Linked DNA regions of Homo sapiens: region 2 is linked to region 1. Evidence: fine-mapped expression QTL. A gene starts in region 1. The other region holds a variant in brackets. All regions are shown on one strand. Distances are between the middles of the regions.

The links.
Region 2: its variant is fine-mapped to the expression of MLLT1 in whole blood (TOPMed, PIP above 0.99).

Annotation. Positions count from the first base shown.
Region 1 is chr19:6,277,346-6,282,711 of GRCh38, reverse strand. It overlaps MLLT1 (MLLT1 super elongation complex subunit), which reads left to right and starts at 2,737. Exons shown (of 12, transcript NM_005934.4): 1 at 2,737-2,939. The coding sequence starts at 2,928. RefSeq lists a silencer at 2,340-2,769 and an enhancer at 3,570-3,649.
Region 2 is chr19:6,198,303-6,203,672 of GRCh38, reverse strand. It overlaps LOC105372255 (a long non-coding RNA gene), which reads left to right and starts at 4,149. Exons shown (of 4, transcript NR_187772.1): 1 at 4,149-4,197. RefSeq lists a silencer at 3,903-4,232 and enhancers at 3,746-4,348, 4,349-4,952. The variant A/C (reference allele first, on the strand shown) is at 3,169.

The DNA of each region.
Region 1 (5,366 bases):
TTACCATGTGTTCTCATCATTAAGCTCCCACTTATACATGAGAACATGTGGTGTTGGATTTTCTGTTCCTGCGTTAGTTTGCTGAGGATGACGGCTTCTAACTCCATCCATGTCCCTGCAAAGGACATGATCTGATTCCTTTTTATGGCTGCATAGTATTCCATGGTGTATATATACCATATTTTCTTTATCCAGTCTATAACTGATGGGCATTTAGGTTGATTTCACGTCTTTGCTATTGTCAATAATGCTGCCGTGAACATACGCGTGCATGTGTCTTTATAATAAAATTATTTATATTCCTCTGGGTATATACCCAGTAATGGGATTGCTGGGTTGAACATTATTCATGCCTCTAGGTCTTTAAGGAATCGTCACACTGTCTTCCACAGTGGTCGAACTAATTTATACTCCCATCAACAGTGTAAAAGTGCTCCTTTTTCTCTGCAACCTTGACAACATCTGTTGTTTTTTGACTTTTTAATAATCGCCATTCCGACTGGTGTCAGATGGTATCTCATTGTGGTTTTGATTTGCATTTCTCTAATGATCAGTGATGTTGAGCGTTTTTCATATGCTTATTGGCCGCATGTATGTCTTCTTTTGAGAAGTGTCTGTTCATGTCCTTTGCCCACTTTTTAATGGGGTGGTTTGTTTCTTTCTTGTAAATGACAACCCGATTTTTAATGACAAGAAGGAATTAAAATAACTGCACAAGGATCCCCAAATCACAGGCAGAAGTCCTAATGTCCAAGAGACAAGTGGCTTATAAAGTCCTGAAAAAATGGGGTTATGCCTATTTCCCACATAAACACAGTTTACAGGTCATTGTAAAATTTTGTGATCCTCAATAAATCAAAACAGTTTTTTGAGAGATGGGTATTATTTAAAATTTTGTGGATAACATGAGATTCTCTCTTTAAAAATTATATCTTTGTTCAGGGCGCAGTGGCTCATGCCTATAGTCCTAGCACTTTGGGAGGCCATGGCAGGAGGATTGCCTGAGGCCAGGAGTTGGAGACCAGCTTGGGCAACATAGTGAGATCGCTCTTTCTATAAATAAATAAATAACCAAACTAGCCGGGCGTGGTGACATGAGCCTGCAGTCAGTCCTAGTTGCTTGAGAGGCTGAGGTGGGAGAATTGTTTGAACCCAGGAGGTCTAGGTTACAGTGCGCCACGATTGTGCCACTGCACTCCAGCAGAGACCTCATCTCAAAAAAAAAATCTTTATTGACAAATAATAACTGTATATATGTATGGGGTACACCTTGATGCTTTGGTACATGTATACATTATGGAATAAACAAATCAGGCTAATTGACATATCCATCACCACATATACTTATCAATTATTTATGGTGAGAACATTCAAAATCCACTTTTAGCATTTTTTTTCTTTTTTTTCTCTTTTTTGAGACAGAGTCTTGCTCTGTCACTCAGGCTGGAGTGCAGTGGCATGATCTCATCTCACTGCAACCTCTGCCTCCCTGGTTCAGGCGATTCTCCTGCCTCAGCCTCCTGAGTAGCTAGAATTACAGGCACACACCACCACGCCCGGCTAATTTTTGTATTTTTTTAGTAGAGATGGGATTTCACCATGTTGGCCAGGCTGGTCTTGAACTTCTGACCTCAGGTGATCCGCCCCCCTCAGCCTCCCAAAGTGTTGGGATTACAGGCGTGAGCCACCGCATCTGGCCGCTTTTAGCAATTTTAAAATATAAAATTACATTATTATGTAGTCACCTTGCTGTGTGATGGATCGCCAGAACTTATTCTTCGTGTCTAACTGAAAACATGTGACTCTCTTGGGTCATTTGAATGTAGCACGATTTCAAATTTGTATCATTCAAATTAGCATGAAGAATCACACAGTACTGTTCTTCAACCTATTTCACAGATGCACAAACTGAGACTCAGGGAAAGGTGAAGAAGGGGCTGACCAGGTTTGCCAAGGATTATGCAAGATTAGAAAATTAATCTCCACTTTGGGAGGTTGAGGCAGGCGGATCACTTGAGGTCAGGAGTTCGAGACCAGCCTGGCCAACATGGCAAAACCCCGTCTCTACTAAAAATACAAAAATTAGCTGGGCATAATGGCGAGCTCCTGTAATCCCAGCTACTCGGGAGGCTGAGGCAGTAGAATCTCTTGAACCTGGGAGGTGGAGGTTGCAGTGAGCTGAGATCGTGCTAGTACACTCTAGCCTAGGCCACAGAGCGAGACGTGTCTCATAAAAAAAAAAAAGAAAAGAAAATTAATCTCCAGTTCCAGAGCCCAGGGCTCGTTCCATTACATAGCAGCATCATGAGGTCAGGAAACAAAAGTGTCCCTACCGGGGGGGCTGGGGGATCCCTCCACAGGGCTCGAACCCGTAACCTCAGTTCCAGCCCCCGGGACGCTCCCGCCCTGGAGGCTCCAGCCACGAGGCAGCGCCCCCTGCGGGCCGCAGCGCGCAGGCGCCGCGCGCCCGTCCCGCCCCCGCCCCCCTCCACGTGCGGCGCACACCTCGCGCTCCCCTCCGCCAGGCTCGCCTCGCGCCTCCCTCCCTCCCTCCTCCCGCCCCTCCGGTCCCGGCCTCCCATTGGCTGCGGGCTTCGTCCCTCCGGCCGCAGCCCGGCAGGCCCCCGCCAGGCAGGAAGTCCCGCGCCACAAGCGGCCGTCCGCGCCGTCGATTGGCCCAGGTGGCTGTCAGTCGATGCGGCGGGCCCTAGTCGGCGGCGGGGGCCCGTGATCGGTGCGCGACCCGGGCTGGCGGTGGTTTCCGGTTCCGCGGGGCTGGCGGGCGAGCGGGCGGCCGGGATCGGCGGCGGCGGCGGCGGCGGCGGCGCTTGACAGACAATGAGGGCGGCGGGGCGGCGTTGAGCGGCGGCGGCGGCGGCGGCGGCGGCGAGCGACGCGGGGCCCGGGGGCGGGGCGGGGCGCCAGCCATGGACAATCAGGTGAGGAGCGGCCGCGCCGCCCCTGCGCAGCCCGCCCGGCCCCCTCCCGCCCGCCGGCCCGCCCGGCCCTCCCCGGTCCCGGCCTCCCCGCTCCGCGCCCGCCCGCCCGCTTTGTGCGCGCCCGCCGCTCCTCGGGCCTTTATGTGGGGCGGGGGCGCCCCTCCCCCATCCGCGACCCCGGCCAGGGCGCCTCGGACACCCTTCGGGACCCGGGCCGGGCCCGGAGCCCCTTGGGACGCCCCTGGTGACCCCCCAGCCTGGCTCGGAGACCCCCGGGAGACCCCTCGGAACGCCAGTCCGACCTGCATCCACCTGGGACGCCCCTGGGGACCCCAGCCCGGCTTAGGGACCTCAAGACAGCTCTCGGGACTTCAGCCTGGCCCAGAGCTCCTTCCAGGCACTTCCTGGGATCTGGGCCCTGTTCAGACCCCTCCCGGGGCCCCTCGGATCTGCCCAGTAGACCTTTCCGTCTCTAGGTCCAGGGCCAGTCACTGTCTCCTTTCCTGTCTGGACCCTTGTCCCCGAGTCGCCTCAAACTCCCAGAGTCCCCAACCTGCTGTCTGTCTTCCCTTCAACCTCAGCTCAGATATGAGGCGTCCCCGGCCCCCTGGGACCCTGCTCTGCGGCGTCTCTCTTCCTTGAACCCCGGCCCAGCCTAAGCTTTATCTCCACCCATCCCCTACCTGGACCTGAGCCTTCTCTCCCGTCTGATCCTGCCCCGGCTGCAGCCAGGGCATCCCTTTCTCTCCCAACCCCAGCCCTGGCCTGAGCTCCTCTGACTCCCTAGGACCCTGGCCTTCGGTCTTCTGCTGCAGGGACTCAGGCCTGTTTGGAGTGTCCCCTCTCTTTGTACTTGCTTTTTCAGACTTCTTTCTTTGACCCACCCTGCCGCCTCAGCCCCCTTCTAGTTTCAGGCCCTGGTCACTCTCCCTCGGACCCGGCGGGGCTGTCTCTTTCACCTTCAGACCCTCTGCTCTGAGACCAGGACCAGGAGCAGTTTCTTCTCTGACCTGGATTCCCCAGACCTTTGAGTCACTGATGGCCTGCTGTTCCCCTCAGCTTGGGCCCTCTCCGCCCCTGGGATCCTGATTTAGGCTTCCCCACACTTGACCCCAGTCCAGATCTCCCTCCCAGGCTGGTTGGTCACGTCACAGTCCTGCAGTCTCCTGTACAACCTTTGCCTTCAGGATCTCCCACTTCATCTAACGCCCATCAGCCTGATGAGTCCTGATGTCTCTTTCAGCCACTACCCTCTCCCTCCTTCCACCTCATTTTCTGTTTTTTTCCCCCAGGATCTTAGAGCCTCAGTTGAAACCCAGGGTGGGTGGGTGGGTTCCCCAACCTCCCTAAACGCTCTGGACGGCCCCTCCCCATTGGTCTGTGTTGGTTCTCATAAACACGAGGCCTTCCTGCACCCTGGCACCCCCTTTACCCAACTCTGCGCTGCCTCTTCTCCAATACCCAAGCCCCTACCCCTCTTCCTCAAGCCCAGAAGCATTGCTGGCCCCCAACATGGGATCATTTCTTCCTCCTCCTCTGCTGCCCTGGCTTTCAGGGGCACCAGGCCAGGAAAGGTGTTGTGGGGCTGTGGGGGTGGCAGCCAAAATCTCCGCCGTTAGAGAGGGCAGGTTGGGGCGTCCCTGGCTGCTGGCGCCACTGAAGTGGCACTGTCTGTGTGGTTTCATGGGTGGGGGGCAAGAATCCTCCCTCCTGCCCATCTCGGCGCCTGTGGCACAGGGTCATGGAGACAGGTGTCTCATGCTTCTGGCACCCAGTTCCCATGGCTTCCCATCTGGTTTGGGTGTTGCTGCCTTCTTCTTAAGAGGTAAGGAAGAGTTTGCAGCAGTTGATTGGTGGATTTCCACGGCGTGGTGTGAGTTGATTTCCGTTGAAGGGACAGAGCTTGTTGCTTCCAATCTGTATTGAGTTAAAAACCCAAATGAAATATACCTTTAGTGTCCACTTTCAATGAAGCCCACCTCCAGGCAAGTCCCGCTGGGCACACAGAGGCATAGGGTATGGCCCCTTTCCTCCTTCCTTAGTCCCTGGGGGAGATGTCCTAGGCCGAAGCGTGTCTGTTCCCCTTGTGATGTGTGGAACCCTGGAGGTCTGGGTGGCTGTCACTTATGTAAGTGGGATGGTGGAAATGGGTGGCATTCCTGGTCTGCGACAGAGGGAGATAAAGGTCTCACTCAGGTGGACAGGTGTGGGAGAGAGCTGGCTTTGCACTGCCCGGTACCACAGTCACCAGCATCTGTGGCTGATTTACATTTAAACTAACTCGAATGACAACTTCAGTTCCTCCATCGCACCAGCCACATTTTAAGCACTCAGTAACCACCATTACTGAGCTACTGAGCTACTGACCACCCTGTCGGGCAATGCAGATGCATTTCCATCATCGCAGAAAGTTCCGTCGATGGTGAT
Region 2 (5,370 bases), 79 kb after region 1:
AATGGTGCGTTCATGGCTCATGGCAGCCTCGACCTCCTTGGCTTAAGCAATCCTCCTGCCTCAGGCTTCTGAGTAGTTGGGACTACACATGCACCACCACGCCCGGCTAATTTTCATATTTTTTAGAGATGGCGGTCTCACTATGTTGTCCAGGCTGGTATAAGCCACCATGCCCAGCCTGGTTTCACTTTTATTAGATAAAATGTTGGGGCGAACGCCCTGGTAGCTCAAGCTTTGCCTATGCACTGTGATTATCTGTGCCGACATATGGATCGACTTGACAATTTAAGATGGTGTAACTCTCTTGGTTCCATTCACTCAGGTGAGTCCATCGGATCCAGGTGGAGCCCCTCCCCACCACTCCAGACTCTTGGATACAACTGCCCACCCCTCATTTCCTCGTCTAACACGCATCTCAAACCCAAACAGCCCAGCTAGGGGAGGGATGTTACCCACAGCCCTCATCCCTAAATCTCCTCCCTCCACTCCAACCTACCATAATCTCAGACAACAGCAGCTCCATCCTTCAAGTGGCACTGACCAGAAAACTTTGGTCATTCTCAGCGGGTTTTGCTGAGACACCAACAAATTCTGTGGGCTCTGCTTTCAGAATCCGAACGCTTCTCACCCTCTCTCCTGCTACATCTTGGTCCAAACTATCATCATCTCAATCTCAGCTGGTCTCTTTCCCCTCAGTCTGTCCTCCCCACAGTAGCCAGAGAGCGCCGTGAGCACCTGAGTCAGGGCATATCCCTCCTCTGCCTCCATGGCTCCCACTCCCCCTCCCCTCGGGTAAAAGCCAAGTCCCCCACAAGGCCCACCAGGCACTTCTCAACCTTCCCCACCCCCTCCCTCCCTCACTCTGCTCCAGCCACAGGGGCCTCCTCCTCACTGCTCCTTCAACACAGCAGGCACTGTCCTGCCTCAGGGCCTTTGCACAAACTCCCCTTGACCTGGAACACCATCCCATAGATCTTTTCTCTTCATTGAAGTCTTTGTTGAAATATCACTTTCTCTCAGTGAGGCTCTCCTTAGCCACCTTTTTCTTTCTTTCTTTCTTTTTTTTTTGAGACAGAGTCTCACTCTGTTGCCCAGGCTGGAGTGCAGTGGCGTGATCTCGGCTCACTGCAACCTCTGGCTCCCGGGTTCAAGTGATTCTTCTGCCTCAGCCTCCCAAGTAGCTGGGATTACAGGCATGCACTACCATACCCAGCTAATTTTTGTATTTTTAGTAGAGACGGGGTTTCACCATATTGGTGAGGCTGGTCTCGAACTCCTGACCTCAAGTGATCTGCCCTCCTCTGCCTCCCAAAGTGCTGGGATTACAGGTGTGAGGCACTGCACCTGGCTAGCCGCCATACTTTTAAATTCTGCCCCCACCTCAACAGTTTACTCCTTTACGTGCTTTGGATTCCTCTGAATCACTGAACACTGTCTTACCTATTGCATAATTTACTTGTTTATTACATTGACAGAACAAGTCACAGGAGGTCTCTTATCCCCTTTCCTGATCTGAAAAATGGGTGTTCATTAATTCAACAAACATCAGAGGGTTGGCGCTGGTACAACAACAAGGCAATCTGGCCTCTCGCCCTCAAGGAAATGACCAAATAAACAAATGACCTTGGTAACTTGTAGCCATGATGATGAAAACTGGGAAGAATATTTTTTTGTGACAGAGTCTTGCTCTGTCGCCCAGGCTGGAGTGCAGTGGCATGATCTCGGCTCACTACAACCTCCACCTCCCAGTAGCTGGGATTACAGGTGTGCCACCATGCCTGGCTAATTTTTTTTGTATGTTTAATAGAGACAGGGTTTCACCATGTTGCCCAGGTTGGTCTCAAACTCCTGACCTCAAGTGATCCACCCATCTCAACCTCCCAAAGTGCTGGGATTACAGGCGTGAGCCACCGTGCCTGGCCCTGGGCAGACAACTTTTAAAGGGGCTGTCACAGAGAGGGGGAAGAGGGCAGGTTCGGGGAACCAGGGTAGCAAGGAAAGACCTCGCTGAGGAAATGCCACTGGAGAAGAGACACAGTAAAAACCATAATAATGGCCAGGCACAGTGGCTCATGCCTGTAATCTCAGCACTTTGGGAGGCCGAGGTGGGTGAATCACGAGGTCAGGAGTTTGAGACCAGCCTGGCCAACATGGTGAAACCCCCGTCTTTACTAAAAATACAAAAAATTAGCTGGATGTGGTGGCAGGCACCTGTAACCCCAGCTACTCAGGAGACTGAGGCAGGAGAATTGCTTGAACCCGGGAGGCGGAGGTTGCAGTGAGCCAAGATCGCACCACTGCACTCCAGCCCTGGCGACAGTGAGAGACTGTCTCAAAAACAAAAACAAAAACAAAAAAGAGGCCAGGCGCGGTGGCTTATGCCTGTAATCCCAGCACTTTGGGAGGCCGAGGCCGGTGGATCACGAGGTCAGGAGATGGAGACCATCTTGGCTAACACGGTGAAACCCCGTCTCTACTAAAAATACAAAAAATTAGCCAGGTGTGGTGGCGGGCGCCTGTAGTCCCAGCTACTGGGGAGGCTGAGGCAGGAGAATGGCGTGAACCCGGGAGGCGGAGCTTGCAGTGAGCCAAGATTGGGCCACTGCACTCCAGCCTGAGTGACAGAGCAAGACTCCGTCTCAAACAAACAAAACCATAAAAATAATAAATAGTGAATGCTGGTGCAATGCTTTGTGTGTGCCAGAGCTATTCGATGTGTGTAAACTCACTGAATCCATGCAGCAAAGCTGTGAGCTAGCTGCTGTTATATTTTATATATTTACATAAAAATGCTGATATAAAAGAAAATATTTTATATTAAATTTAACATAAAAGGGCCGGGCACGGTGGCTCACACCTGTAATCCCAGCACTTTGGGAGGCCAAGGAGGGCGGATCACAAGGTCAGGAGATCGAGACCATCCTGGCTGACACGGTGAACCCTGTCTCTACCAAAAATACAAAAAATTAGCCGGGCGTGGTGGTGGGCGCCTGTAGTCCCAGCTACTCAGGAGGCTGAGGCAGGAGAATGGCGTGAACCCGGGAGGCAGAGCTTGCAGTGAGCTGAGATCGCGCCACTGCACTCCAGCCTGGGCAACAGAGCAAGACTCCGTCTCAAAAATAAATAAATAAATAAATAAAAGTGTAGCACGCATAAAATTTATCCATA[A/C]ACAGACGTTTTATATACTGTACATTTATAAAAACTATACTTTAAATGTATATATAATAATACATATTTTTATATGTTTACTTTTTTATTTTTTTAACTTTATTTTTACCGGAGGATCCAGTTTACTATGGGTATTGGAATGACTTTTCTTTTTTTTTTTTTTTTTGAGACAGTCTTGCTCTGCTGTTGCCCAGGCTGGAGTGCAGTGGCACCATCTGGGCTCACTGCCTCTGCCTCCCGGGTTGGAGTGATTCTCCTGCCTCCAGCCTCCCAAGTAGCTGGGATTACAGGCATGCACCACCATGCCTGGCTAATTTTTGTATTTTTCGTAAAGACAGGGTTTCACCATGTTGGCCAGGCTGGTCTCGAACTCCTGACCTCAAGTGATCTGCCTGCCTCGGACACCCAAAGTGCTAGGATTAAGGCGTGAGCCACCGCGCCTGGCCTTTATATATATATATATATTTATATGTAAAGTTTTCATATAGGGAAACAGAGGCACAAAGGCACAAAGTTTTCGTGCAAGAAAACGTAGCTAATGGCTGCTCTGGGATCTGAACCAGGGCCCCTAAGTCTGCAGCTTTTCATTTCTGGCTCTCAGGCAGCCTCAGGGAATCCGTTAAAACAAACATGCGAGTCAGACAAGTGGCAGTCACAGGAGAGTAACACTGCGCAGGCGCAGAAGGGATGTAGTGGCGCGCAGGCGTAGGAGGCGGGGGGAGATGGGGGAGGAAGGCCCTGCAGCGGCGCGCAGGCGCAGAAGCAAGTGGGCCGGAGCGGCGCGCAGGCTTACCGGGGGAAGAAAGGCGCGCAGGCGCAGGACGCGGGGAGGGGCGGGGGAAGAAAGGCCCTGGAGCGCTGCGCTGGCGCAGGAGGTGAAATAAGTGGCGCGCAGGCGCAAGAGGGTGGGTGCAGAAGAGGCGCGCAGGCGCAGGAGGGGCGGGAGGGGCGCGCAGGCGCGGACCGCCTGGCGGTACTTTGAAGAAAGACTTCTCGACGCCGAGACACTGCTGGTGGTACTCGATGTAGGTGAGCAGGTGGCAGCTGTTGGAGCCGGGCGCGATGTTGTTGGCGTACTTGATGGCCGTGCTCGCGACCATGTCGTGCACAGTGAGGAGTGTCTTGTTGCTAACTTAGTCCTTGCTGAGCCGCAGTCGCGCCTCCCCGTCGCGCTCCGTGGTCCGAGTAGCTCAGCCTGCGGACAGGCGGGTCAGCGGCGGCCGGAGACCCCCAGATGGACCTAGAGAGAGGCGAGCAGGTGGCGTGTCAGGGGCAAAACCAGGGAGAGATGGGAGCACAGGCAGGAGCGTGGCACTGAGAGATGGCAGACGGAGGAGGCGTGGTGTATGAAGTGGATTGCCAAGGGAGAAAGATGACCAGCGAGGCACAGAAGGGGATGCAGGGACAGGTGGACAGTGAGACGCACTGACCCAGAGAGGAGTTCAGCAGGAAACCCACCAGCAAGCAGACAGGTCAGCTGTAGGCCCACTGTCCCTGCCGGGCGCCGTCTCCTCCCCAGGGACCAGACACTTCTTTTTTTTTTTTTTTTTCTTTTTTGAGATGGAGTTTCACTCTTGTTTCTCAGGCTGGAGTGCAATGGCATGATCTCAGCTCACTGCGAACTCTGCCTCCTGGGTTTAAGCGATTCTTCTGCCTCAGCCTCCCAAGTACCTGGGATTACAGGCATGCGCCCCCACACCCAGCTAATTTTGTATTTTTAGTAGAGACGGGGTTTCAACATGTTGGTCAGGCTGGTCTCGAACTCCTGACCTCAGGTGATCCACCCACCTCGGCCTCCCAAAGTGCTGGGATTACAGGCATGAGCCACCACGCCCGGCGGGACCAGACACTTCTGACAACTGCTAACCACCTGCACCCCCAAACCCCCATACACCCAGCCGGGCACCCTATGGTGGTGCTCTCCATGCCCGCATCCCATCAGGCAACTTCTGAAGAGATAGATTGAACCCTAAAGGATCCCAACACTGGCTGAACGGCCTTGGCCAGCCCTGAAGCGCTAGATCCCCACTCTCAAACTGGCTTCTCTGGGAACACCACTACCCTCACCCAGGAGCCAAGGAGCCCCAAACTCTGTTTTTCTTTCCTGGGTGTTGAGTGCCTTTCTGTCGTGGACTCTGAATCTGTCCGAGGACATGGTCTTCAAAGTATCTTTGTTTTCCTTGTCACTGTCTGGGGGCATCT